Linked DNA regions of Homo sapiens. The protein of the gene in region 1 interacts with the protein of each later gene in a biochemical or structural test. Each region holds a gene or a part of one and is shown on either strand. Other genes may lie near its edges. The genes, in order: SYMPK and CSTF2.

Region 1 (3,816 bases):
CCTGACAGCCTGTTGCATCAGAGGACAATACATGCAGTTCAAGCCATTTTTGTCAAGTATGTGTTTATGTATACGCAGAATGACCTGAGGCAAGACATTTAACTTCTCTGGCTCTCAGTTTCCTCTTCTAGGAAACAGGGATAGTAACAGGGCTTACCTCCCAAGACTATTTTGAGGATTAAATGAGTTAGTATATACAGTAAACATTGGCTAAGTATACTATTATTTTTATGTACATGGGAAAAGATCTGAAGGCTACTGCATAAACTGCTAACAACAATTATGATAATTAATAATAATTTGGCCAGCTCACGCCTGTAATCCCAGGATTTTGGGAGGCTAAGGTGGGAGGATCAATTGAGCTCAGGAGGTGGAGGATGCAGTGAGCTGTGATCCCTACCACTGCATTCCAGCCTGCGGACAGAGCAACACCCTGTCTCAGAAACAAACAGGCCAGGTGCAGTGGCTCACATCTGTAATCCCAGCACCTTGGGAGGCTGAGGTAGGCAGAACACCTGAGGTCAGGAGTTCGAGACCAGACTGGCCAACATGGAGAAACACTGTTCCCTACTAAAAACATACAAATTAGACAGGCATGGTGGCGCATACCTATAATCCCACCTACTTGGGAGGCTGAGGTGGGAGAATCACTTGAACCTGGGAGGCAGAGGCTGCAGTGAGCTGAGATCACGCCACTGCACTCCAGCCTGGACGAGAATGAGACTGTCTTAAAAACAAAACAAGGCTGGGTGCGGTGGCTCACACGTGTAATCCCAGCACTTTGGGAGGCCAAGGCGGACGGATCACGGAGGTCAGGAGATCGAGACCATCCTGGCTAACAAGGTGAAACCCCGTCTCTTCTAAAAATACAAAAAAATATGCCGGGCATGGTGGCGGGCGCCTGTATTCCCAGCTACTCGGGAGGCTGAGGCAGGAGAATGGCATGAACCCGGGAAGCGGAACTTGCAGTGAGCTGAGATCACAACACTGTACTCGAGCCTGGGCGACAGAGTGAGACTCTGTCTCAAAAAAAAAAAAAAAAAAAAAAAAACACACACTAAACAAACAAACATGCCAAAAAAACAATAATCTGAGGACGGTGAAAATGATACTTTTTTCTTTTTTTGAGATGGAGTCTTGCACTGTCGCCCAGGCTGGAGTGCAGTGGCGTGATCGTGGCTCACTGCAAGCTCCGCCTCCTGGGTTCACACCATTCTCCTGCCTCAGCCTCCCCAGTAGCTGGGACTACAGGCGCCTGCCACCACGCCCGGCTAATTTTTTGTATTTTTAGTAGAGACGGGGTTTCACCATGTTAGCCAGGATGGTCTCGATCTCCTGACCTCGTGATCCGCCCGCCTTGGCCTCCCAAAGTGCTGGGATTACAGGCGTGAGCCACCGCAACCAGCCGAAAATACTTTTTTTTTTTTTTTTTTAGATGGAATTTCACTCTTGTTTCCCAGGCTGGAGTGTAATGGCACAATCTCAGCTCACCGCAACCTCCACCCTCCCAGGTTCAAGCAATTCTCCTGCCTCATCTCCCAAGTAGCTGGGATTACAGGTATGTGCCACCACATCCAGCTAATTTTTGTATTTTTAGTAGAGACGAAGTTTTACCATGTTGGTCAGGCTGGTCTCGAACTCCTGACCTCAGGTGATCTGCCCACCTTGGCCTCCCAAATTGCTGGGATTACAGGTGTGAGCCACAGCGCCCAGCCGAAAATGACACGTTTTTTAAAAGGAACTACCCAATAGCTATTCACAGTAGTATCACATGATAGGGGTCTCCTCAATGAATGACGAGCCACAGCCTCCTCCCTAGTTTCCCTGCTGCCTGTCACCCCCTATCTTGCTCAGGGTCAGGGCCAATGTCCCCATCAAGGCCTACAAGATTTTATGGCATCTGGCCTGTTCTTCCTCTGACTGCCTCTCCCCCTGGGCTCTTTGCTCCACCCACTCTGGCCTCCTCGCTGTCCTGTGAACATGCCCAACATGCCCCTTCCTCAAAGACTTTGTGCCTCTCTTCCGTCTGCCTGGAATATTCCTCCTCCTAGATATCAGCACAACTCCTTCCCTCTTCATTTCCTTCAGGTCTCCACTCACATGTCTCTGCAGTAAGGTCTTCCCTGACGACTATGTTTCTTTTTTTTTTGAGACGGAGTTTCCCTCTTATTGCCCAGGCTGGAGTGCAATGGCGTGATCTCAGCTCACAGCAACCTCTGCCTCCCAAGTTCAAGCGATTCTCCTGCCTCAGCCTCCCTAGTAGCTGGGATTACAGGCATGTGCCACCACGCCTGGCTAATTTTGTATTTTTAGTAGAGACGGGGTTTCTCCATGTTGGTCAGGCTGATCTCGAACTCCCGACCTCAGGTGATTCGCCCGCCTTGGCCTCCCAAAGTGCTGGGATTACAGGCATGAGCCACCGCGCCCGGCCGACGACCATATTTCAAATTTTAACTTCCTCTCGATCCCCATCTGTGTTGCTTTTTCTCCATAGCATTTATCATCATCACACACTACATATTTATAAGTTCCACGAGGACAGTGATTTATTTATTTGAAATCATTTTTTGGTAGAAGCAGAGTTTCGCCATGTTGCCCAGGCTGGTCTTGAACTCCTGCACTCAAGCAATCCACCCTCCTTGGCCTCCCAAAGTGCTTGGGATCACAAGTCTCAGCCATCGCCCCCGGCCTAGAACAGGGATTTTGTTCCTTCACTTTTTATATTCCCAGCACGGAAGAGTGCTTGGCACCTAGCAGGAGCTCAATAAACATCTGCTGAATGAGTGAACACTACTGCCAAACGGCCTCCCCAATCACTGGGTTCAGTATTCCTGCCCTTTCACTCTTGAATCCTAATAGCTATACTTGTTCTACTTTTTCCCCCTTTCTCACTACTGCACTTGACAAGTCTTTAAAAAAAAAAAAAAAAAAGGGCATGGTGTGGTGGCTCACTCCTGTAATCCCAGCACTTTGGGAGGCCAAAGTGGACAGATCACTTGAGGCCAGGAGTTCAAGACCAGCCTGGCCAACATGGCAAAACCCAGTCTCTGCTAAAAATACAAAAAAATTACTTGGGCATGGAGATGGATGCCTGTAATCCCAGCTACTTGGGAGGCTGAGGCATGAGAATTACCTGAGCCTGGGAGGCAGACGTTGCAGCGAGCCGAGATTGCGCCACTGCACTCCAGCCTGGATGACAGAGCAAGACTCTGTCTCAAAAATAAAACAAAACAAAAACAAAGAAAGGAAAGAAAACAAAAATAGGACGGGTATAGTGGCTCACAATTGTAAACCCAGCATTTTGGTAGGTCTAGGTGGGAGGATGGCTTGAGGCCAGGAGTTCAGGACTAGCCTAGGCCTAAAAACTAAAAAAGAAGGCCAGGTGCAGGGGTTCATGCCTATAATCCCAACATTTTGGGAGGCTGAAGCAGGAAGAGTACTTGAGGCCAGGAGTTTGAAACCAGCCTGGGCAACACAGCGACACACCATCTCTAGACATATGCACAATTAGCTGGGCATCGATATCATGCCACTGCTCTCCAGCCTGGGAGACACGGTAAGACTCCATCTAAAAAAAAAAAAAAAAAAAAAAAAAAATTAGCCAGGCATGGTGCCATGAACCTTTAGTCCCAGCTACTCTGGAGGCTAAGGTGGGAGGATTGTTTGAGCCTGGTTGTAGTGAAGTATGATTGGGCCACCGTAGTCCAACCTGGGCAACAGAGCATGAACCTGATGAACCTGTTTCCAAAAAAAAAAAAGAAAAAATAATCAGTTAATATATATTGAACACGGCCGGGCACGGTGGCTCAAGCCTAT
Region 2 (3,816 bases), on another chromosome or scaffold:
GAATGAATCTTGCCTTCCAGATTCAGTGCAGTTTCTTTTATGTTTTGCTTCTGAAACTACATTTATGTTCTTTGCATAACTAGAAGATTCAAAACTATCCTTTTTATATATTTTTTTCCTAATGATTTCATAAGGAGACCTAACGGAAAACTAGTAGCAGAGGTGAAAATCGAAAATGTCAGGTTATTCCCACCTAGATCAAACCAGTGCCCCCATGGGATTCCCTTTCAAAAGCTATCTGGTCAAAATGGAACTATTTCAGAGACCCAAAGGAGCTAGTGTAGTTTAGGGAGATTTTGTAGCCTGGAGCAAGCCGATGAACTCTTGGCTTTTTAACTTATATATGTAAATCTCAATCTCCATGTGTGTGTGTTTCTGCGTGTGTATGCAAGCTATTTTAAGTGTCTGCTCTTTCTCCTTTTGAACTTACTGCTTACCTAGGAACCCTACAGCACTCGCCCGTGGGACCCGCCGGGCCTGCATCAATTGAGCGAGTTCAAGGTACCCATTGTATCTGTGGGTTTCCTTTTGCTTGTGGTGTTCAGGGTGGGACGTTGAGAGGAAAAGAGCTGCGTGGCAGTCATCCTCGCGTTCAGAACCCAAAAGGGTAGTGTTTTTGGGTTTTTGTTTTTTTAATTTTTTCCTGTTGAGGCCACAAGCCTAAGATTGACCTCTTCACACAGGGCAGAGAACATGGATGATATGGGCATCTGTCCGAGGCTGTACTCCCTCCCTACTGGTGTCAGGAGGCTTGGATGGAATAGCAGTCTGTAAGGAGACAGCGGGTTCTTGCAGAGCCATGGCAGTGTTCACATATGCCAAGACTCTACCTCTGTTTTGTGACTCTGGTCCTTGAACTAAGATTGATTAGAAGGAAAACCAGGAGCATAAGTTTCTCCAGGTCGCAGTGCTAGTCCTTGGCAGGTTGCTCCCCAGTTTGCTCTTTATATAATTCCATCCATACCTCTGACATGGCACAGATTCTGCCTACACCCTGCTTCTGTTCTTGAGCTGCAAGAGGATTCTGCTGTGGTGAGGTTTCACCCACTCTAAGGTGTCTGAATTATGTTGTCAGTGGTATATAGAGTCATTTCTTGTTTGCTTATGTGTCTTTCACAGCAGTAACTCCCCGTTTGTTTCCCTGTCAGTGCCGATGCAAGACCCCAGAGCAGCTATGCAGCGGGGATCCTTGCCTGCGAATGTCCCAACCCCTCGAGGCTTGTTAGGAGATGCTCCGAATGATCCACGGGGAGGCACTTTACTTTCTGTAACTGGAGAGGTAGAGCCTAGGTAAGCACTAACATAGAAGGAAACAGTTGAAGAAATCAGAATTGTCCCTTCTTCCCTGAGAACAAAATCTTTCTGTACCAGTTGTACCTGTTTGCCTACTTCAAAAGGTAGATCAATATTCATGGCCACTGTCCAAGGGTAAGCACTTCTCCTAAGGCAGAACTATGTACTTGAGTATGTCATTTTGAGCTATTATATTTTTAGAAATTGGAAATTTTAGTATACATACTTGAACAGGGAAATTTATAGTAGTGGAAATATTAATAATAGCAATAATAGGCCGGGTGCAGTGGCTGACGCCTATAATCCCAGTACTTTGGGAGGCCAAGGTGGGTGGATCACTTGAGGTCAGGAGTTCGAGACCTGCCTGGCCTACATGGTGAAATCCCATCTCTACTAAAAATAGAAAAATTAGCCGGGCGTGGTGGCGGGCGCCTATAATTACAGCTACTGGGGAGGCTGAGGCAGGAGAATCGCTTGAACCCAGGAGGTGGAGGTTGCAGTGAGCCGAGGTCATGCCACTGCACTCCAGCCTGGGCAACAAGAGTGAAACTCCATTTCAAAAGTAAATAAATAAATAAAATAATGATAGTAATAATAATTGACATTAATGGGGATCATGCCTCTGACTCTGCTCTGAGTACTTTACTTAGATCATCTTATTAAATCCACAAGATCCTGTGAGATGGATACCATTATTAGTCCCATTTTACACGTGAAACTGATGTGTGGAAAAGTTAAATAATGTGTCCAATATCACACAGCTAATAAGTGATAGAGCCTAGATTTGAACCCATACAGTCTGAATCCAGAGCTCATGTTCTTATGCATTGTTCTGCAAACTCATACATATAATGAATATTCGTTGATTCCTCCCTAATTATGAACCAAATAACGAAATTCTAGAATACATGGATTTATATCTCTGTAGCTTTTCTTCCATCTATTTGGTGTTATTTTCTTGTTAGTATTCATAGACTACATCAGCTCTTTGTTGGATGTTTACTTACTGATCTGGTTGGTACTTTGTTGTTGTTTTGTTCTATTTTAAAATACAACGTTTTTCTCCATCTCCAGAGGTTACTTGGGACCACCTCATCAGGGTCCACCCATGCACCATGTCCCTGGCCATGAGAGCCGAGGACCACCCCCACATGAACTGAGGGGAGGGCCATTACCCGAGCCCAGACCTCTAATGGCAGAACCAAGAGGACCCATGCTAGATCAGAGGGGTCCACCCTTGGATGGCAGAGGTAAGGGGAGATCACATTGCAAATGCCATAATGAACTCAACTGTCTTAGGCTCTAATCTGGGATAAAGAATGCTGGAACAGTAGGTTTGCAAGCATCTTTAAGGTTTATCCACAAATCTGAGAAACTGGGGAGGAGACAATAGTCTCATATGTTAATAGCTGAGGGGACAAATGTGACTAGAAGAGATTTCTATCTTTCTTGGATTGTTCATCATTCTTGCAGTACATGCAAGTAGCTACATAATGGTTTTGTTACATTTTTCTTTATAGGTGGAAGGGATCCCCGAGGAATAGATGCACGAGGGATGGAGGCCCGAGCCATGGAGGCAAGAGGGTTAGATGCCAGAGGATTAGAGGCCCGTGCAATGGAGGCCCGTGCGATGGAAGCTCGTGCAATGGAGGCCCGAGCGATGGAGGCCCGTGCAATGGAAGTCCGAGGGATGGAGGCCAGAGGCATGGATACCAGAGGCCCAGTGCCTGGCCCCAGAGGACCTATACCTAGTGGAATGCAGGGTCCCAGTCCAATTAACATGGGGGCGGTTGTCCCCCAGGGATCCAGACAGGTATGTGTAACACTGACTTCTGGCATCCAAGTGAAATCTTGATCTATTCAGGAATTGATTATTGAGCCTAATTATTACTGCCTTCTGACTTGGGCTGTTTCTTAGCTTGTTAGAAAGGGAAGACTTGGATCTCCCTGTAGCTTCTCTGTCCCTTAGGGTGGTGATTTTCTGGCTATCAGGATTGTAGTTCAAAAAAAAACAACCTTATCCCACAATAAATAGCTATTCATTTGGAGCAGAGCCCCTGAAAATTTAGGGGTTAGAAAGTAGTCTTGATTGGGGTACAAACCAACATCATGTACACGGTTTTTTCCAAGATATACTTGCCCGGATCTCATCCGAGGTATAACTCAGAATCTCTTATTAGTAGGATCTGAGCATGGATAGTTTGAAAAACTTCCCCCAAATGATTCTAATGTGAACCCTGACTGGGAACCACTGGGTTAGAGTATATGAAGAGCTGTTAGTGGCCATTTAGATAATCTTAGGTTTAGAGAGACCTGTGTTAATTTATTGTCATCACATAGCCTAAGTGAACAGTGGAATGTGAAAGGCAGTTTATTAATAATCACCTTAAAAGGTGTGGAACCGAAGTCTTGTCTCCTCTCTTTTATTTGGATCTCTCTGCCTGTGTGTACATGCTCCCTCTTCATCTCGACTTGGTTGTGGAGAGGTGGTATGTGTGTTTCTTCCGTGAGTTTTTATATGCT

What was found.
Region 2: the proteins of SYMPK (region 1) and CSTF2 form a complex in vitro, tested with the Homo sapiens proteins (one study listed by BioGRID).

The regions. Positions count from the first base shown.
Region 1 is NC_000019.10:45,856,384-45,860,199, forward strand, and holds part of SYMPK (symplekin), read right to left. Parts: intron 1-3,816. UniProt on the Homo sapiens protein: Scaffold protein that functions as a component of a multimolecular complex involved in histone mRNA 3'-end processing. Specific component of the tight junction (TJ) plaque, but might not be an exclusively junctional component. May have a house-keeping rule.
Region 2 is NC_000023.11:100,830,367-100,834,182, forward strand, and holds part of CSTF2 (cleavage stimulation factor subunit 2), read left to right. Parts: intron 1-441; coding exon of another isoform or gene 442-501; intron 502-683; coding exon of another isoform or gene 684-856; exon of another isoform or gene 857-1,142; intron 1,143-1,148; coding exon 1,149-1,290; intron 1,291-2,367; coding exon 2,368-2,543; intron 2,544-2,813; coding exon 2,814-3,106; intron 3,107-3,816. UniProt on the Homo sapiens protein: One of the multiple factors required for polyadenylation and 3'-end cleavage of mammalian pre-mRNAs. This subunit is directly involved in the binding to pre-mRNAs.